Linked DNA regions of Homo sapiens. The protein of the gene in region 3 purifies or fractionates together with the protein of the main gene of each other region. This does not show direct contact. Each region holds a gene or a part of one and is shown on either strand. Other genes may lie near its edges.

The links.
Region 1: the proteins of YARS2 (region 3) and DDX28 purify together in Homo sapiens (affinity purification with mass spectrometry; 2 studies listed by BioGRID and IntAct, with this or other methods). This does not show direct contact.
Region 2: the proteins of YARS2 (region 3) and FASTKD2 purify together in Homo sapiens (affinity purification with mass spectrometry; 2 studies listed by BioGRID and IntAct, with this or other methods). This does not show direct contact.

Annotation. Positions count from the first base shown.
Region 1 is NC_000016.10:68,020,395-68,027,897, forward strand, and holds DDX28 (probable ATP-dependent RNA helicase DDX28), read right to left. Parts: upstream 2,839-7,503; 5' UTR 2,809-2,838; coding exon 1,186-2,808; 3' UTR 522-1,185; downstream 1-521. UniProt on the Homo sapiens protein: Plays an essential role in facilitating the proper assembly of the mitochondrial large ribosomal subunit and its helicase activity is essential for this function. May be involved in RNA processing or transport. Has RNA and Mg(2+)-dependent ATPase activity.
Region 2 is NC_000002.12:206,761,326-206,768,626, reverse strand, and holds the start of FASTKD2 (FAST kinase domain-containing protein 2, mitochondrial), read right to left. Parts: upstream 3,022-7,301; 5' UTR 2,880-3,021; exon of another isoform or gene 2,865-2,879; intron 1,984-2,864; 5' UTR 1,934-1,983; coding exon 1,157-1,933; intron 1-1,156. Other genes in the region: MDH1B (putative malate dehydrogenase 1B), read left to right, coding at 3,356-3,377. UniProt on the Homo sapiens protein: Plays an important role in assembly of the mitochondrial large ribosomal subunit.
Region 3 is NC_000012.12:32,746,044-32,752,919, forward strand, and holds the end of YARS2 (tyrosine--tRNA ligase, mitochondrial precursor), read right to left. Parts: intron 4,832-6,876; coding exon 4,676-4,831; intron 4,065-4,675; coding exon 3,894-4,064; intron 1,321-3,893; coding exon 1,161-1,320; 3' UTR 501-1,160; downstream 1-500. UniProt on the Homo sapiens protein: Catalyzes the attachment of tyrosine to tRNA(Tyr) in a two-step reaction: tyrosine is first activated by ATP to form Tyr-AMP and then transferred to the acceptor end of tRNA(Tyr).

The sequences.
Region 1 (7,503 bases), on a different chromosome or scaffold from region 3:
GCACCACCACATTCAGCTAATTTTTTTGTATTTTTAATAGAGATGGGGTTTCGCATGTTTACCAGGCTGGTCTTAAACTCCTGACCTCAGGTGATCCTCCTGCCTCAGCCTCCCAAAGTGCTGGCATTACAGGCGTGAGCCACCACACCCGGCTTTTTTTTTTTTTTTTTTTTGAGATGGAGTCTTGCTCTGTCCCCTAGGCTGGAGTGTAGTGGTATGATCTTGGCTCACTGCAACCTCCGCCTCCCAGGTTCAAGTGATTCTCCTGCCTCAGCCTCCCGAGTAGCTGGGACTACAGGCGCGTGCCACCACGCCGGGTTGATTTTTGTAATTTTTTTTTGTGTATATATATATATACACATATATATATACACGTATATATATATACACGTATATATATATATACATATATATATATACGTATATATATGTATGTGTATATATATATATACGTATGTATATATATATATATATATATATATATACGTATATATATATATAAAGAAAATGCTATATGGTTATTTTTCCAGTTTTGTAAAACCGTTTAATCATCTCTCCTCTTTCTCGGCTACCGAGTTGGGATAGAAGGCAGAACCTGAAAATGTACAAGCAAAACTTCTGTGTTCGTCTACCCTTTACTTTTCTGCCAGTACCTTCCAGAGATTTCGCCAAGACGCCCGTTTGTCTTGGGCATTGTTAGAGAGTAACTCTGTCTACTGCTAGTCACATTTCCTTTCCTTTCCTTTCCCTGGGGGCTTAATGGATACCTTTTTGGGGGCAGGAAATACAAACTAAATGTTTATAAATGAAAACATCAACTGAAAGAGCCTTTGTCCTAGATGTGGAGGTTTGGTGTATGAATCCTCAGAAACTACTGAATTCCGCCCCGGTGCTAATTATTCTTAGGGGAGGCACATAAAAACATCATTTATTGTTAGAAATCATGACATGATACAAAGTCAAAATCCACTTGTGTCTTGCTAAAGACTACAGAAAGCCATGCTCAGCAGCTTCTTCTCCAATGCTGGCCAGCAGCGTACCTTTCCAAGTCACAAAGCAGTTCATCCCGCCCTCAAGGAGCCGACAGGGCAGCCCAGAGCCTCCCACTGACAAGTGTGGTCACCCACTCAAGATACTGGGAAAGATCCCTGTTCTAGCATCACATTTTAATCAGATTTGTCAAAATCAGGTTGCTTGGGGCAAAGGCTCTTTCACCGAGGATGCTAGTCCTGGAAGACTTCTCCTTCGGCGAGCCGCCAGCTCAATCTTCTGAACCAGGCTCACATCCCAGGGATGGGTCACAAAACTGATGACGGTGCCTGGCACCTCGCTCCCCACACGGCCCACTCTCCCTGCTCTGTGGATGTAATCTTGCAGCGTTGGGGGGAAATCATAATTGACAACCAGCTCCACACCAGTGCTGTCCAGGCCCCGAGAGGCTATGTCTGTGCAGAGAAGTATGTCTCGGGAGCTCTTCTGGAAGGACTGGAAGATTCCTACCCTCATCAAGGCTGGCATTTGCCCCTGCAACCTTAGGTGTTGGATTTTGTGGTCATCCAGAATATATCCCAGCCAGTTCACAGTGCTGGAGCTATTACAGAACACCAGAACAGTTCCTGAGGGACCAGTCCTTTCTGCTCTGTCACGATGCTTGAGGATGTGCACCAGCTCGGCCACCTTATCTGCTCCCTTCAGTCTCAGAAATGTCTGTTTCACATGAGGCATGATACAGTGGAGCTTGGAGCTGGTGATGGTGGTGACAGCATCTGGGCTGGCGACTTTATTCAGCAACTGGCCTACACCTTCGGGAAATGTGGCTCCTACCAGCACTAACTGAGCTTTGGGATTGAAGGGGTCTTCCAAGTCAGCTGGGCCTTCTGCTATGTGGCTCTTCTCTAAGATGTAGTCCACCAGTTCCAGGAAGCTTTCATCCAGCAGTGTGTCTGCCTCATCCAACACCAAGAAGGAGAGTTGCTCCAGACTGATCAGTCGACTTTTCAGGGCCTTCCACAGAGCCCCTGGAGTGGCCACAAGCACATCTGCTGAAGGCTGTCTGGACAGCTGCAGCCTGATCCTACGCATGCCGTGGCCTCCCTCCAGGTCCCGCACCAGCAGGCCCAAGGAGCGGCCCAAGGGTTGGGCCACAGCCCGCACCTGTTGGGCCAATTCTCGGGAAGGAACAAGGACCAGGCCTCGGGGCGCGGGGATAGGAAGGGAGTCCAGGCTTGGCTGGCCCAAGAGCCGTTGAAGCAGCGGCAGGAGGTAGCTGAGAGTCTTGCCACTGCCGGTTTCTGCGGCGCAAACGACATGGCGGCCGCGAAGTAGTGAGGGGATGGTGCTAGACTGCACGGTTGTGGGCTGAACGACTTCAGGCGCAGCCTCCTGTAGTGCGTGCAGCACACGGGGCTCCAGGCCCAGGTCAGCAAAGCTGCCCTTAGACGAGAGCTTTCGCACCGCTGGCGCCTCCTGTTGCGCGCGCTCGATGGAGAAGTGGTCCCGACGCGCGCGTCGACTCTTCCAGCCTTGAGAGGCTAGCGGCGCGCGCTCCCAACGGCCCAGTGTGAGGCGCGCCGGCTGGTTCAACTCCGGCCGCCGCGCCGAAACCAGCAGCGGTCCGGGTCGAACCAGCACCGGCCTCGGGAGGTTCCGCCGCCTGCTCTGCCGCTGTTCCAACTGCCGCTGTAGAGCCACTGGGATGCGCACCACCGGCAGGGGTTCGTCGGGACTGCGGACCGTGAGGCCCCGTCGCGGCGCCAGGAGCAACCGAGTCACGAGGGAAAAGAGCCGCACCGGCCGCGTTAGAGCCATGTTTCCCTTAGTGCGGGAGAAGCGCACATCAGTGACGTCACGGACGCGCCGCGACCTCGCGTACGGTGGCTGGCGAGGCTCAGTACGGTGTGTGGAGCTGGAGCACCGTGAGGAAGAAGCGAGGTTCTTTTTAAGAGTTCAGCTGCGAGGTCTGTAGCTCCGAATAGGGGATGGCGACATCCAGACCCGGCCAGCCTTGGGGAAGGGCGCGTCGTGGAGGCAGGACTGGAGGCTGGCGATACGAGGCGGCAGTGGGGCCTTGACCCAATGGACCATGAGGGCGGAGGGCTTCTGGCGATTGGTTACCTGGTTCCTGGGATTCTCTTTAGTTGTTCCTCATTGCCCTGAGATAGCTTGTCCCGTGCTGGTATCCGAGGTTGCAGCTGTTTTCCCAGATGTGTTCCCTGCGCAGGGTCTGGTAATCCGTGTTTATTGAGAGTTTGAATGAATGATCAGGCCTAGGGGCCGAGACAGGGGTCTGAAGTCATAGATCTGGGCTCAACCCCTCACCCTCTCTGTCTGTGAGCCCAGAGTGCAAGCTGATGGCTTTCAGCTTCTTCTCTCTCTCAAGTGGGAGATAAGGTCTTCAGGTTTTATTTCAAGTTGGGTCATCTTTTCTTCACAGTTATTTTCCTTCCTTTTAAGCCAAGGTTCACTCTCTACTCCCTCGTCACGCGTCCCAACTTCTCATCCAGAACCCACCCCTCTTGCAGCCCGCTCAGCTCCACTGGCTTCCCCGTCAGAAACCTGAATTACCTAAAATAGTAGTAAGAAGGGTGCTGCGACCCTACAAAGTGATCAAGTACGTGGCTTATCATGTAGCCCTGGTCAGGCAGAATATTTTACCTGAATTCAGATATTCGGGTTGTAAAAACAAGAACTATACGAGTCACTTTTTTTTTTTTTTTTTCTGAGACACAGTCTCGTTCTGTCACCCAGGCTGGAGTGCAGTGGCGCAATCTCGGCTCACTGCAACCTCCACCTCCTGGGTTCAGGTGATTCTCCTGCCTCTGCCTCCCAAGTAGCTGAGACTACAGCCGTACACCACCCACGCCCGGCTAATTTTTTCTGTTTTTAGTAGAGACAGGGTTTCACTATGTAGGCCTGGCTGGTCTCGAACTCCTGGCCTCAAGCGATCTTCCCACCTCGGCCTCCCAAAGTGATGGGATTATAAGCGTGAGCCACCATGCCCAACAGATACTTCTTGAACAGATCTGGAAAATGGGTGTCAGATCTTTTCTGTAATTTGCAGTGCCTGGGGTGGGAGATAAGGTAAATATTTATGGATTAACTCTCTGGGAGGTTCGTAACATCTGGAGAAAACGTTTTAGTTTCATCAAATACCAATGAAAAGATAAAAACTTTGCTTTTTTTGGAATAGTATGAGGAAAAACTTTCACAATTTTAAGTACACTCTACCCTTGTGCTACACAATTAGACTTTCTGGAGAGTTACCAGATAAATCAGAGGAAGAGAGGCTTTTTTTCTCCACAAGAAAATATCTGGAAGTAGGAAGAGAAAGTTTTGAGTAGTGATGGGTGAATGAACAGTCATTGGATAGGGTAGTGGTTCTAAAACAAGGGTGATTTTGCCCTTTCCCTCCCACCATATTTGACAATGGCTGGATACTTTTTTTTTTTTTTTTTTTATAGACAGTCTCACTGTGTTGCCCAGGCTGGAGTACAGTGGTGCGATGTCAGCTCACTGCAGTCTCTGCCTTCTGGGTTCAAGGGATTCTCCTGCATCAGCCATCTGAGTAGCTGGGATTAGAGGTGTGCGCTACCACTCCCAGCTAATTTTTGTATTTTTAATAGAGACAGGGTTTCACTACGTTGGGCAGGCTGGTCTCAAACTCCTGACCTCATGATTTGCCCACCTTGGTCTCCCAAAGTGCTGAGATTACAGGTGTGAGCCGCTGTGCCCGGCCCAATTCTATGCTACTTTTATGATTCTTTCCAAACTCAGGGCTTCTCCTTATCCAAATAGTTCCTTGGGGCCAGGCTCATGCCTGTAATCCCAGCTACTCGGGAGGCTGAGGCAGGATAATCGTTTGAACCCGGGAGGCGGAGGTTGTTGCAGTGAGCCGAGATCGCACCATTGCACTCCAGCCTGGGCGACAGGGCGAGACTCTGTCTCAAAAAAAAAAAAAAAAGGTCCCTTGGATGTTTGTCCCAACAGGTTTCATCCATTTCCATGTGCCACTGTTTTTCAGATATCAAACAAAGAATTACTCTGTACAAAGCCAGAACACATATATCAAAGTAATCCTGAAGTATCAGAACAAAATAATAGGTATGTATATGCATTTGGGTTTTTGGGTTTTGTTCAAATATCCAGGGTAGGGTAGCTGGTTAATATATAGTTGTTTTCTCATTATGCTTGAGTCCTTACAATATGATTACCTCAAAATTTCACAGGAGTTAGAGCTTGCCTAAGCCTGTCTGTGTCCGTGGCCACTAATTTCTTCTTGTCACATCACTAGACACTGCCTACCTTTTTTCCCCCTCACTCACAGAGGACATTGATTAACTTCTAAATGTTTTCTGAGATATTTTTATAAGTAGTGCTTTAGAAATAGGAAAGGTATCCTTATTGTGAAAAAAAATCTAAGCTCCTGAGATCAGGAGCTTGGTGTGTTCCTTGGATCTCAGTTAATAATGGTATATTCATTCATTCATTCAATCATTCATTCAACAAATACTTCCTGAGCACCACGCATGTGCCAGGCATTGGTAGTGAGGAAAACAGCCAAAATCCCTGCCCTTGTGGAGTTTACATTCTGATTTAATTGATTTGGGTTAAGGCCTAGACAAGGTCTTGCTCTGTCACCCAGGCTAGACTTCAGTGGTGCCATCTCGACTCACTGTAACCTCTGCCTCCCAGGTTCAAGTGATTCTTCTGCCTCAGCCACCCCAGTAGGTGGGATTACAGGCACGTGCTACCAAACCCGGCTAATTTCTGTATTTTTAGTAGAGATGAGGTTTTGCCATTTTGACCAGGCTGATCTCGAACTCCTGACCTCAGTTGATCTGCCTGCCTTGGCCTCCCGAAGTGCTGGGATTACAGATGTGAGCCATTGTGCCCAGCCGAGAAATTGGTATTTTTAGAAACCTCTCCAGATGTAACTAGGCTTGAGAATCACAGTTATAAATGAAGCACTTTGGGAATTGCAAAGCATTACAGCAATAAAAAGTGCTATTGGTATTACTTTATTGTTCCTCCATTTTCCCACCTGTAGCAGGGCTGTGCGCAGGTAATCATATTTTCAGTCATTATCACTATAGTATTCCTGGACCCTTTGACCTTCCTTCTCATCCAGCTCCCTACCTGCTCTTTGTTTTTTACCCTCTGGTCTACCTTCTGTTTCCCGAGTGATGTTATTAAAGCACAGCTAGGCCTGGTGTGGTGGCTCACGCCTGTAATCCCAGCACTTTGAGAGGCCAAGGCGGGCAGATCACGAGGTCAGGAGTTCAAGACCAGTCTGGCAAACGTGGTGAAACCCTTTCTTTACAAAAATACAAAAATTAGCTGAGCATGGTGGCAGGCACCTGTAATCCCAGCTACTCGGGAGGCTGAAGTGGAAGAATTGCTTGAACCCGGGAGGCGGAGGTTGCAGTGACCTGAGATTGTGCCATTGCATTCCAGACTGGGTGATAGAGCAAGAGTCTATCTGAAAAAAAAAAAAAAAAAAAAAGCACAGCTATGGCCATGTTACCCTTTGACTCAAAAGCCATTCATGAATCCTTGTTGCCTGCAGATTATTTCCTAATCAGTATCCAGAATTGGGCTCAACCTCTTCTGTTGCTTTCTTATGTGAATCTTGTTCACTCAAGTGATGGCTCCATGCAAGTTGGCCAAAGGGCTTGTAGTCCTTTACTGGGTAAGCCAGAGATTGGAGTAGTCATTCGTCTCCTCTAAAACCAAACTTGAGTGATAACAAAGCACTTTAAATGCACTTTGGCTGGGATAGAGTTCTTCTGTGACTGAAGCATGGAGTGGATCATAGCTCTTGTTGCACTTGGTCCATTAACTTCTTGTTTTTTTTTTTTTTTGGAGATGGAGTTTTGCTCTTGTTGCCCAGGCTAGAGTGCAGTGGCATGATCTCAGCTTACTGTGACCTCCGCCTCCCGGGTTCAAGTGATTCTCTTGCCTCAGCCTCCCAAGTAGCTGGGATTACAGGCATGCGCCACCACACCCGGCTAATTTTGTATTTTTAGTAGAGACGTGGTTTCTCCATGTTGGTCAGGCTGGTCTGGTCTCAAACTCCCGACTTTAGGTAATCCGCCTGCCTTGGCCTCCCAAAGTGCTGGGATTACAGGCGTGAGCCACCTCACCCGGCTGCCATTAACTTCTTTTTACAGCAAACACTAAGCATCTACCATATGCCAGATTGTATGCTCTCTGATGAGGATCTGGTGATGAACAAGCCACAGTGCCTATTTTCACCTTACAGTGAAGAAGGCATATTGACAGATAGTTGCTCTTCTATTAATAGTTGCCAGGATAGCTCCATGCCAGGACAGGAATGAGCTCAGAGATGCCTTTACCCTGTTTTGGGAGATGTTGGTCAGAGAAGGCTTCCAGGAGGAGGTGATGAGGTTCTAAAAGTCTACAGGGAGTCAGCCAGGTGGAAGAATAGGGACGTGGCCCCTGGGCAGGGACAGCTTGTTCAGAGATCCCATACTGAGAGAGAGC
Region 2 (7,301 bases), on a different chromosome or scaffold from region 3:
CCAGGCTCAAGTGATATTCCCACCTCAGCCTCCCAAGTAGCTGGGACCACAGGCAAGTACATCACACCCAGCTAATTTTTGTATTTTTTGTAGAGATGGAGTCTCCCTTTGTTGCCCAGGCTGGTCGCAAACTCCTGGGCTCAAGAGATCCTCCTGCCTTGGCCTCCCAAAGTGCTGGGATTACAGGTGTGAGCCACCACACCTGGCTAAGAAATTACTTCATTATCACTGAGTTTATACGTCAGAAGTGTACACTCTTAAAACATAAATGATTAACAAGCTAATCCTTCCTTCCTTACATTTGGCACCATTTCAGTGACATTAAACAGGACACTGACATTCTTGCTTTAGACTAAAAATGGCTCCCTCCATCCAATTTTAACCTTCTTCCAATACATCTTCCACTCATTCAGTGATCTAAAATACAAATTTGAGCACGTCAACCCATTGCTTAAAATTCTTCAACGGATTCCCATTGCCTACAGGATAAATGCATACTCCTTAGCTAGCCGTAAGAGGCTCTTTATGATTTGGTTCCTATTTTTCTGGCCTCTTGTTCTGCCCCTAAGCCTCTTGCCCCTCACTCCTCTCCTTTGATCGCCATGTACAAAACTTGTTCCCACCCACTCAAACATACAACTCCATCATTCTGTGCTTCAGCTACACCAAACTACTTTCAGCTCTTCAAATTTGCCAAACTTTTCCTCTGGGAACAGTAGGGCATGCAATCCTCTCTACTTGAAACACCATCCCCTTCACTATCATTCTGCTCATCAGTTTAGGTATCATCTACTGGGCCTGAATTCCAATTCTACCATGGACTAAATTCTCTTCCTTCCCCTTCCCTTCTCTCCTTCTTCAACTACCCAGGCTTTCTTTGTATATCTTGCATCTCTCCTCACTTTAGCTTCTTCACCACTACTCAACCCTGGGGATGGTAAATGTGGAAGGCTTTCATAAATTTCCATAGCAAAAGGAAGAAAATAGCTAACTTAAGGCCTCTAAATCATATAATATATATGCAGAAATAAATATAAAGGAAACTACCATTCCATTTGATAGTCTCTTTTAAGAAGGCTACATATCTATATCCCTTCATTCTTTCAAAATATTCTAAATCAAGTAAATGCATGTTTAAATCTCCTTTTTATTTTACCTGGGTCACCCTCAGCAAAGTCTGCACCAAAATAGTGTTCTGAGGGATTCCAAGCTTCACTATGGCGTGAAGACTGAACAGTAGGTACTTATACTGCATGATCTTGGCTTCTCTCATCATATGTTCACAGAGCTGATTAAATGCAGGGTGGCTAAACATCAGTCGTTTTTCAAAGCGCTTCTGGTCATCAGACAGTCTTTTGGCAATTGTCCACATTGCTGTGAAATAGTTGCTACTAGGAAATGTGGGCGCTTTTGAAAATGCATCTAACACATCACTCAGGGAATTACATTCCTCAGACAGTTTTCTACTGCTGATACGGTTTGGTTTTGTTTCCTTGGTAAGAACATCTTCATTGGAGACTTCATGATTAAGGTTTACTTTCTTCAATTCATCATCAGATTTATCAACAGGGACAAGAGACTGCTTTGAGTCAAAAAACAGTCTTTTAGCATAAAGTAGTCTTTCAATTCTAAGGGCTGTTAGAGTGCTTATGCCCTTTGTTTGAAAGCCAACATCTGATTTAAAAATGAATGCATCCTGAAAGAGATATCTAATGATATCAGTTGATTGCATTCTGTTATGAAAGTTATTTAAAATGTTCCAGTTTGAATGAACTATTTTTGGTTTGCAAAGTCCCAAACAACATAGCCTCATAGTTCTGCTTGTTGAAACTAATGTACTGAATTGTCTAAGGTTCCAGAAAAAGGAGCCCGCTTTGTTATTCATTTTGCTCTCCACTGAAACACTTCCAAATGGCTTCAAAGTTGTCAACATGAAACCAACGTCACTTCTACTAGTGAAAAAGAACACGTGCTGTCGTTTTCCTGTAGGGGAAGAAGTAATGAAAAGAATAAAAATTAAAACAAAACTTTTACTTAAAGAAATGAAATGCATTTAACAGAAGAGAAAATGGGGAACCTATGGAGCCATTAAACATTTACATAAAACAGTAAAAGTTTTTTTTACCAATGTGGGCTCCCTCCAATCTACCACAATGTGTCCAGTTTCAAAGAAGCCAGGTCACTTTGGAAGTAGTCATTGTATTAATGAGATTTTTCTGGTGCAAAAGCGTTCCATAAAGCTTTCTCTGTAGGAGAGACTTTTGTTGGCATTGTTATGGAAATGTCCTCGGTGAAAATTAGGGGATTAGCATTGATAGATCATTTTCTTTTCTCTTCTCTGTTTTTTTTTTTTTTTTTTTTTTTTTTGAGACAAAGTCTTGCTATGTCCCCCAGGCTAGAGTGCAGTGGCGCGATCTTGGCTCACTGCAACCTCCACCTCCCAGGTTCAAGCAATTCTCCTGTCTCAGCCTCCCAAGTAGCTGGGATTACAGGCGTATGCCACCACGCCCGGCTAATTTTTGTATTTTTTGTAAAGACGGAGTTTCACCATGTTGGCCAGGCTGGTCCTGAACTCCTGACCTCAGGTAATCCACCCGCCTCGGCCTCCCAAGGCGTGAGTCACCGCGCCCGGCTGATAGATCATTTTCAACATGACGATTTAGCAACGGCCGAACCCAGACCATCAAGAATAGGGACCTGGGCAGGTAGAACGGCTCAGTGGAAGAAGCAGAAAACGAAAGCGATGTCTGCACGTGGCCTGCGCTTAAGAGGAAGATCTTATACAACCAGCCAGCCTCACCAGACCCCAGAACCAACTTCAAGAGCCTGTCCTTCCGCAGCTGGGCCGCCCAGCATTAACCCACCTCCTTTAAACTTACTTCCAGGACAACTCGTGAGACTCTTCTCCTCGAAGTAAAAAGTCTAGGATGTGATACGGGCTGCCGCTAAGCCCAAGCTCGTCCTCCACTCACCTTAGAGCACAAGACCGTGACTACGTACAGGAGCAGCCATGACAGCTTCCCCGAGAAGCTGCGCTTCTCACGAGATCTTACGGATTCCCTCAAAGGTCAAAAAGCATATGTTCGCGGCTGTAGCTGAAGGACTTACTTGAAGAAAGTTTACCAAGGAGAATGACTAATTTCCCTGCATACAGGAGTGGGGCTCGGGGATACCACAGAGCTTATAAGGGCGATGTTTGATCGTGTATCGCAACGTAACCCATTCAGGTCCTAACTTTAAACACCTAACCTCTGCTGGGCGCCAGACTTTGTAGTGCGCCTGCGCCTTGCCCTTGGCTGCGTGGTTGCCAGGAAACCGCGAAGCCGCGGTCCCTGCCTCTGAGTCTCTCTCGACCATGGCCAAATTCGTCATCGCGGGTGAGTGATCCCCGCGTCCGCCCGCAGATTGCTCAAAACGCCGACAACAGCTCACCTCCCATGGCCGCTCGGCTTGGCAGCCTCTATACGGACCGCTCCATGCTTTGCTATAGATTTATTCAAAGTTTTTTACTGGACCGTGACGGTGCGCCAAGCATTGTGGGACACTGGGGATGCAATGGAGGGAAACATATCCCTGCCTTAGAGGAGCTTTCAGTCTCATGGGGCACAGAACATGTACTTTTGATACGGTGTGATTAACGCGATGAAGGAGACCTGCACAGGCCTCTGGGAGCGTAGACTCCTAATCTGGGTTTGGGGGATGAGGGAGAGGTGGACACAAGGAACTGGCTGGGGAAGGTATTACAGGAGCTGAGTTGTGAAGGTGTGAGCTGAGGAGGCTATTCCAAATAAAAGCAGAGAGGCAGGAAGCTTCCTGGCCTAACAGAAGATCTGGATATGTGGGGCGTGACAGGACCTGGGGCTACAACAGGAGCAGGAGCCAGGTCCTTGCATTTCATGTAGGTCAAGCAAAGGTGTTTGAACTGTATCCTGAAAGCAATGAGGAATTATAGAAAAATTTTAAGCAGGAGAGTAGTCTTAATGAGTTTGCATTTTAGGAAGCCTGTCTTGGCAGCAACGGAGAGAATGATTGAAAGTGCTGGTTGACAGCAAGGACTCAACTGAGAAGGCTTTTATTACAACAATCCATGGTACCTACCTCCTCTCCTCGTAAAGTTTCTTAAAAGAGTAGACTGCTCTTCCATCTCCAGTTCTGCCTTCCAATCAGTCTTGGAAGAAGGCTTCTACTTCTGCTTCCTGACAGAAACTGCTGTCACCAAAGTCACCACTGACTTTTATAGAAGCTGTTTAGTCTTTGACTTATTTGATCTCTTTGATGCATTGAACACAATTGACATCTACCATCCACAGGAGATTTTTTTTTTTTTTTGAGACAGGCTCTCACTTTGTCACCCAGGCTGGATTGCAGTGGTGCAATCGTGGCTCACAGCAGCTTTGACCTCCTGGGCTCAAGCGATCCTCCCACCTCAGCCTCCCAAGTAGCTGGGACTACAGGCATACACCAGCATGCCCAGCTAATTTTTGTATTTTTGTAGAGATGGGGTTTTGTCATGTTGCCCACGCTGGTCTTGAACTCCTACGCTCAAGTGATTTGCCCACCTTGACCTCCCAAAGTGCCAAGATTACAGGCATGCACCACCACACCTGGCCCAGAAGAATATTTTTGAACACTGACTAACCACATGGTGGGAAGTCAGTGGAAAACACACAGAGAATGTTGCATGTATGACACTGACAGGGCAGGGTTCTATAGGAACGATAGCAGGGACCTTACTTAATCAGGTAAGGGTTTCCCAGAGGGAGAGATTTTAAGCAGATACCTGAAAGATGATAATGAATTACCTAACAGAGAAGAGGTAGAAAGGAGGGGAGCAATTTAGGCATGGGTAACTGGGAGTGGGGTTAGAGCAAGGAGAACTAGTTTGGTGACAATTGAGAATATAAAATAAGTATAAAATTGAAATAAGTTTATTAGGACTGAAGCAAATAGTACAAGGAAGAGAATTTCATAAGGTGAGGCTAGAGTTAGATAATGTAGATTCTTTTGAGCCACATTCAGTAGTTTAGACTTTATCCAGAGTACATGAAAGGTTTTTAGAAGGGGAGGAGGGCCTAATCAAATCTGAATTTTATCTGAATGTTACGGCTATAGTGTGGGACAAAAAGACTGGATACCAAGAAACCAGTTAGGAGACTAGTGCTATAGTCCAGGAGGGAGTTGATTGTGACCTGGCCTAGAGTGGCAAACAATGGAGATGGAGAGAAGTGAATGGATTGGAGAGATATTAGGGAGGCAGAATCTATAGAACTGGATGTCTAATTGACTGGAGGAGGGCAGATAAGGGAGAAAAAGGAGTTAAACATTGTTCCCAAGCAGAGGTTTGAATAATTGCAGAGATTAGGAGTCACTGAAAAAAAAAAAAAAGCGGATGAGTAGGTTTAATACTCTGGATACTCTTACTACTCTTAGATAATTAGGGAGATGGACATAATAAATATAAGCGACTAAGCACATTTAGTAGGGGAATGGTGACAAAATACATCATAGACCTTCTGAGTGTCTATGAGACATTTTGAAGGAGATGGGAAAATACAGGAGGGTGTAGGCATCTAGATAAGGAGATCTGAGCTGGAAATATAGATTGCTACTTGAAGCCAAGGGAATGAAGCAGATTGGCCAAAAAGAATATGTAAGTTATAAAGACAAGATGCTTCTCAGAATGATACCTTTTAATGGGTTGATAAAGGAATGGAAACCTACAAAGGATAGAAAGGAGTGACCATAGAATAGGAGAACTGGGAGAATGCCCCCACTATAGCAGTGTTTCAAAAGCCTGGAAGGGGGCAGTGGTGGCAAATGCTGCCAAGGGTCAACAAGAAAAGGATCGGAAAGTATCTGCTGGATTTAGTGGCATGGAAGTCTTCAGTGACCTTCAAGAGAATTGTGGGGTCTGCTACATTGCAGTGGGTGAGAAATAAATGGAAGTGAAGAACTGAGGATGGCAAATATAGGGAACTCTTTCAAGATATTTTGATCAAAAAGGACATACGAAAGGCAATAGCTAGAGGGGGAGATGAGTTTTTTGTCTCTTAGGACAGGAGAAACATAATGTAATGAGTATATTTAAATATGACAGAAAGGGACTATTAGAAACAGATACAAGACTCTAGAAAGAGAGGATAATTAACTAAGCAAGGTTCCTATGAAGGCAGATGAGGATGGGATTCAGAGCATAAGTGGTGGGATTAGATTAGACAGGAGGTAGGACTCCTCTTCCATTGAAATGAAGAAAGGAGGAAAGGATGAGTCCAAGTACAGACAGGCATGTAGATGTGATGGACGAGGTTGGAGATTTTCCAAACTAATGCCATTTTGTTTTGTTTGGGTTGGTTTTTGTAAAGTAAAAAGCAAAGTTGTCTGTTGTGTTCTGATAATGCAGAGGAATGTTGGGGAGAAGGAAAAGATTTGGAGGAAGAGGAAAAAGACTGGAATAGTAATGAGGAGAACAGAAGAGAGTGCTGATAAGGGAAACAGAGGGATCTCCACGCAGGGTTGAGGGCCAATTAAAGCTGGTGACCATGAATTTTAAAGGTGCCCTCCGCTTGGTTCTACAATGTTTCTGTAGTGGTGGCTAGCAGGTAGGACCCAGCTACAGAAAAGGCAAGTAATTGAGTTCATCCAGGATAAGGGGCTTTTATCAGGCTCATTTCCCAAAAGGATAGTGGAGAAAGATAATTTAAGACATGGACCAGAAAGTGGTTTGAAGAGATGAACCATAGATTTGAACTAGACAGGGTGGCTGATAGACAGGGGTAGCTTCAGACAGGTTGGTAACTTAGGAGTTAAGTTATCTTAACTGAGGAAGAATGCTACAGAGAGGGCTCTGCATTTTTCCCCATCCCTCCTGCTCTATCAGATGCCCAATTCCATCTGTTGTAGTGGCTTTAACTTCCTGGGTGTTGATGGCTACAAATTGTGTGTCTGAAACCCTTACATGGCACCTGCACCCCATATATATGTATACATATACATATACATGTACATATACATATACATATATATCCAGCTACTTGCTGATCATATCCACTTAGACACACTACAAGTATCTCCAACTGCACTTGACTAAAGTTAAATTTCTCATTCATGATTTTTCTCTAGTTAAGGTCAGCATCATCTGCCCAAGCCGGAAAATAGAAGTTATCCCAGATTCTTCTTTCCCACCCCCACAACTTCCTGACACACATCAAATCCAAAAGTGACTTTACCACCACTCCTCACTTCAAACTTTACCTTTTGGTGGCCATTAGTGAGTAGTTCATTATCAGTACTAATTCATGCTG
Region 3 (6,876 bases):
ATTGGCTTTATTTTTGGGGGGTTAACTTTTTAATTTACCTCAAGTTGCAATCTGCTTGGGGGGAAAAGCTGAAACTTAAAACCAATTTAAGTTTCTAAATTTATAAAACATTGCTACCTTAGGAATCCACTGACAACAAGGCTTAATGTGAACAGAATTATACTGGAACACAGGCAAGGAACCAGAAAACTGAATTAGAAACTTTCTGAAAAGTCACGTACTGATTTTTGTACTATTATTTGTAAAGAAACTACTTACTGTAATTTCTCAAAGCAACCATGGCCTCATCTAACTTTTTCTCCTTTTTAAGAACTACATTTGCTCTCTGAACTACAAAAAAATCAAATTTCTATTCAAAGTTTCTAATACTAGTTTTCCCATTTCTAATGTGGACACTAGAGGCCCTGATGATTTTATAAACAACTATATAACATTAGTGACATCGGTGCTCCATACCTGATAGAAAAGCAGCTACAATTCCTTTTTTTTTTTTTTTTTTTTGAGACAGAGTTTCACTCACTACTCATGCTGTCTCCCAGGCTGGAGTGCAGTGGCGTGATCTCAGCTCACTGCAACCTCCATCTCCTGGGTTCAAGTGATTCTCGCAGCTCAGCCTCTTGAGTAGCTGGGGTTACAGGTGCCTGCAACCACATCTGGCTAATTTTTATATTTTCAGTAGAGACGGGGTTTCGCCCTGTTGGCCAGGCTGGTCTCAAACTCCTGGCCTCAAGCGATTTGCCCACCTTGGCCTCCCGAAGTGCTGGGATTACAGGTGTGAGCCACCATGCCCAGCCTCACAATTCCTTACACTACCTCTTTTTCATTGTTCCTCATCACTACAAAAAGGAGAGCAGGAAGGGTAAGATAGGAAAGCAGCATTTCTTTCTCTTCTGAAGTATAATTTTAAAAAGAGATTAACCCTGAAAATCATGGTTTTCTATGGTAATCAAGCTTTGTACATCAGAAAATAAAACATCCCATTATTAAACAAATATTTATTAACCGGCCCATAAAAATAATGAAGTTACTCACACTGAGTCCTAGTCCATTCTGTTTTTCTGATTTGCATAAGCAAAGGTCTAAGTTCTGGAGCCAACCCTTCAGAGGTCTTGAGAATGAATGATGGGTAAGTTTATTTGGACAACCAGAAGGACTTTTCATCACAACTGAAGCCATTTTATAATGTAGAAATTTCTTTTTCCTATTTTAAGTAAGGAAAGTCCATTCTTGAGAATATGTTGTCCAACAATTAAAACACTCTCAGGATTTGTTACTTGTTGGTGATTTATGCTGACTCCGCCTTCTGTTATCATTCGATACCTAAAAAATAGAAACGTTTAGTAAGTAGAGAGATCCAATCACTGTTGATCTGTCCCCCAAAAAAGACTGTTTCACTTAGATTTCAGAGGCTCTCCAATTGAGAAGATTTCATTTGGCACTGGACTGTTACCTTCATGTTTGCTCTATTATTAATAGATTCTGCCTCTCTTTACTGCTCTTTGTTTTTTGTTGTTTGTTTTTGAAACACATTCTTGCTCTGTAGCCCAGGCTGGCATGATCTCAGCTCACTGCAACCTCCGCCTCCTGTGTTCTAAGTGATTCTCCTGCCTCAGCCTCCAGAGTAGCTGCGATTACAGGTGCATGCCACCACACCTGGCTAATTTTGTATTTTTAGTAGAGATGGGTTTCGCCATGTTAGCCAGGCTGGTCTCAAACTCCCAACCTCAAGTGATCCACCTGCCTTGGCCTCCCAAAGTGCTGGGATTACAGGTGTGAACCACTGTGTCTGGCCGGAATTTACGCCTTGCAATCTGCTCTTTTAAAGACTCCGTCTCAAGAAAAAAAAAGAAAGACCTAGGAGAAGTTGTTCTAGGAGCACACTGGGTAGGTGAGGGCTGAACATTTCACTGAAAAAAGAGATACTTAAACTGGGAGTGAAGCTACCTTGACAATCAGGGCAGGAAACATGGGAGCAGCTAGAAAGAGGTGAGATCTGAGAAGACAGGGCTACAGCGTGGCTAGATCTTGGAAGTCCTTAAGAAAGAAAAATGGTGGTTTTCTCTCATCTGAATGTTACCAAATAAAATTAAGAAACCACTACTGGACATGGTTTTAAAGATATTTTTATACCTTTATTTTTGGGTAGAGACGGAGTCTCACTACGTCCTTGCCCACACAGATCTTGAACTCCTGGCCCCAAGCAATCCTCCCGCCCTCAGCCTCCCGAAGTGCTGGGATTACAAATGTGAGCCACCATACCTGGCCATGGACATGGTTTTATAAAACTCATCAGTAAAATATTTTCTACTTAAGGCCAGATTCCTTTCTTTTAGGAAGTATTATTTTACGCTGTCTGCTAGTTTCCAGATCATGTTCTATGTTTAATTTAAATGCACCAAACCTATTTAGCTTATATAATATTAAAAAAAAAAATCAGTATTACTTAGAGCCCTGGCTAAATCAGATGTGGTGTCATTTTTAGTAGTGGTAAAGCTTCCAGTATTAGCGAACACACTATAGTAAAGTTCAGAAGAAAACGAAATCTGCTTCCATAGTGAGGAAAATTATTTGTCTCGCTGACATACTACAGGGAAGTATATGACACCAGCCTCAAATTCACTGTGTGTTAAACCAGCAGATGAGGGAATCACTAAGGTGGAGTGGCAGGTGATGCAAAGGGAGACAATGGGTGCTTTTTCCAGGCAGAATAGTCTAGGACTCTTTAGGACACAGGCAAACAATCCAAGACAGTTGAAAGAGAACAACTATAACAAATGTCATTCATAATCATGGCCATGATATGGCCGATAACCATTTGACTTCTGTGTGAACTCCTGCAAAAGAGGCACCTGGGGGTCTTCTGGCTACCCAACACTTTTCCTTCCACCTCACTGTTCATTTAAAAATGGATAAGCATCAATTATATGCTGAATTATTTTTTGTGAAAAACCTTATTTACTCCTTAATACCTCATAACTGATTAATTAAAATATTCTACTCAATTCCTGAATAGAAAATGCAATTCTCAAGGGGATTATTATATAGTTTACAATAATAGTCTTATGACGTTAGTAGGTTAGTGCAAAAGTACTTGCGGTTTTGGCCATTATATGCTCATTTCATTTTCAGAAATTCAGTTAATACTATAGATAGGTTAGGTAACCTTTCCCATCCCCGAATATAAAAAGGATACAGACTATGAGAGGGGCTGTGTTAATCTGTTACATAGGGCCTCTGTTTCTGCATCCCTCTAAAACTGTGACCATATCCCTAAGCCGTACACTGATGCCAGTGTATTTACTGAACATGTCCCTCAAATGCACTTTTCCAGTGTTGGAGGAAAGACTGACTGGGTTAGATATAATAAGAGACAGTATAGGAGTACTGTACTATTATAGAAAATATAAAGTATTTTCAACAATAAGTACTCTCAGGCTATACTTTATTCTTGGACTAAACTAACTTTTCTAAGGAAGAGATGCCACTAAAGCACTATCAGGAAAACATCCTCTCTGGAAACACATGCTGTGAACTGTAACATTTTATTTATTTTTTGAGACAGAGTCTTGCTCTGTCACCCAGGCTGGAGTGCAGTGGTGGGATCTCCGCTCACTGCAAGCTCTGCCTCCCGGGTTGATGCCATTCTCCTGCCTCAGCCTCCCAAGTAGCTGGGACTACAGGCGCCTGCCACCATGCCCGGCTAATTTGTATTTTTAGTAGAGACAGGGTTTCACCGTGTTAGCCAGGATGGTCTCGATCTCCTGACCTCGTGATCTGCCCGCCTCGGCCTCCCAATGTGCTGTGATTACAGGCATGAGCCACTTCTCCTGGCCTTGTGAACTGTAACATTTAATGGTGAATTAACTGTAAATCTAAAAGTTAAATAATCTTACCCTCGGGGACCATCTGGAATGGCATTTGCTTTGCGGCAAGTATCTAGGACACTTGTTCCAGGATCGAGAAAAAATTCAGAAAATGGAGCTTCTTTAAACAACTCTTTTAACTCCTGATCAGACATGACCTCCAGTGCATCTATGCTACTGTGATAAAGGGCTTGTGTACACCTGAAAAACACATTTTAAGAGCTACATCATATAAATGTTTATTCAAATACATGTTCTAATACCCATTAACCAATTATAGAGTGTCCAAGTTCTAGACTAAAAGTTTTTTTTTGAGATGGAGTCTCGCTCTGTTGCCCCGGCTGGATTGCAATGGCATGATCTCGGCTCACAGCAACCTCTGCCTCCCGGGTTCAGGCGATTCTCCTGCCTCAGCCTCCTGAGTAGCTGGGATTACAGACGTGTGCCACCACGCCCAGCTAAGTTTTGTATTTTTAGTAGAGATGGGGGTTTCACCATGTTGGTCAGGCTGGTCTCGAACTCCTGACCTCGTGATCAGCCCACCTTGGCCTCCCAAAGTGCTGGGATTACAGGCGTGAGCCACCGCGCCCGGCATAGACTAAAAGTTTTTTAAACATCTATCTGGTATAATTCATAAACTTAATTCAAGATAATCCTTCTTTCCAATAAACAGGGGCTATTTTAAATTGCTAAGTCAAATACTGACAGTCCTTGTGATAAATGACAAGATAATCCTAAAACATACTCCTACTTTTCTCATGTCTATCCACTGAATAACTAACTATCAAGTGTTAATCATACTAAACTACTACCTTTTAGCAGAATCCAATCCTTCTCGTCCATGAACAAGCTTTGTTACTTCTGCTGCCAGTCGTTTCTGAGGACCCCGCCTTTCTGGCTCTTTGACATGCAGCTGCATGATATGATCAATCTCTGGAAGGGGCAGGAAAGTGAACAGCTTCAGGTACCTTTGAGACAAAAAATAAAGAGTTACACTTATATAACATACCTAATTTTTATCTCCAGCTCTTCTACCCTTTAAGGTTATCCTGCTTACTTTTAAATATGAAACAAACATACAGAAATGTACTGAACATAGTAGGTCCCATGCACACATCACCCAGATTTAAGGTGTTACTATTTTGGCATCTTTGTTTTCAATTTCTTTTTTTTTTTTTTGAGATGGGGGTCTTGCTGTTGCCCAGGCTGGAGTGCAGTGGCATGATCATGGCTCACTGTAACCTCAACCTCCTGGGCTCAAGCAATTCTACCACCTCTGCCTCCCAAGCAGCCGGGACCACAGGCTTGTGCCACCACGCCTGGCTAATTTTTATATTTTTTTTGTAAAGACGGGGTCTCCTGTGTTGCCCAGGCTGGTCTCAAACTCCTGGGCTCAAGTGATCCTCTTGTCTCAGCCTCCCAAAGTGTTGGGATTATGGGCAGGAGCCACCAAGCCCAGCCTCGTATTTTCTTTTTAAAAGGAACAAAATAGGCATAGATGAAGGCCGCAGTCCAATCACATTCCCTTCCTTGCCCCGAGATAATCATAAATCTAAGTTTATGTGCTGCCATCTTTCCCAAGCATGTTTTTATACTTTCATGTGCATGTGGCCATAAAAAAAAAGTACTGTGTAATTTTAAAAACTGATATAAATCATCATGCTCTGCATAATGATGTTTCTGTCAATGATGGACTACATATATCCGCGGTCCCCAACCTTTTTGGCACCACGAGGCGGCGGGGAGGGGAGGTGGTTTCAGAATGAAACTGTTCCACTTCAGATCATCAGGCATTTGTTGGATCCTCAAAAGGAATGCGCAACCTAGATCTCTTGCATGCGCAGTTCACAATAGGGTTTGTGCTCCTATGAGAATCTAATGCAACCGTGGATCTGACAGGAGATGGAGCCCAGGTGTAATGCTCGCTCGCCTGCCACTCAGCTCCTGTTGCGCAGCCCTGTTCCTAACAGGCCACGGACTGGTACAGTCCAACAGTGGTTCATAACATTATAATACCATAGTTTACTGTACTTTTTCTATGTTTACGTATACAAATACTTACCCTCGCGTTATCACTGCCTTCAGTATTTAGTACAGTAATGTGCTGTATGTGCTTCTACCCTGGGAGCAACAGGGTACACTGTATAGCCTAAGTGTGTAGTAGGCTATGCTATCTATGTTTGTGCAGGGACACTCTACGATATTTGCAATGATGAAATCACCTAACAACACACTTCCCAGAATGTATCCCTATTGTTAAGTGATATATGACTATAATATCATCCTATATGTATTCTCTTTTTCTTTGGTGAAATATATATAACACACAGAAAAAAGTACATTATTCACAAAGATATAGCTTAATGAATCATAAAACATCTATGTAACCATCACCATGGTCAAGAAATACAGTATTGGGCCGGGCGCAGTGGCTCACGTCTGTAATCAAATAGTGAGTTTGGCAGAGTTGCTAGATTTAAAGGTAATATATATAAAGTAATTGTATTTCTATACACCAGAACCAGATAGAAAATGCAATTTTTGAAAAGATTATCTAAATTCTCTAGGCCGGGTGCGGTAGCTCAAGCCTGTAATCCCAGCACTTTGGGAGGCTGAGGAAGGTGGATCACTTGAGGTCAGGAGTTCGAGACCAGCCTGGCCAACATGGCGAAACCCTGCCTCTACAAAAATACAAAAATTAGCTGGGCATGGTGGCGCATGCCTGTAGTCCTAGCTACTCAGGAGAATCACTTGAACCCAGGAGGCGGAGGTTGCAATGAGCCAAGATCATGCCACTACACTCTAGCCTGGGCAACAAAGTGAGACACTGCCTCAAAAAAAAAAAAAAAAAAAAAAAAAGATTATCAATTCTCAATACATCAAAACCCCAGGACTATATCGTCAAACATTCTAGGACTAAATCTAAAGAGAAAAAAACACAATTACCAAAATTTTGTAATAAGGCATGATAATCTTCCACTCTGTTCTTCAAAAACATCTTGGCCAATCTTAG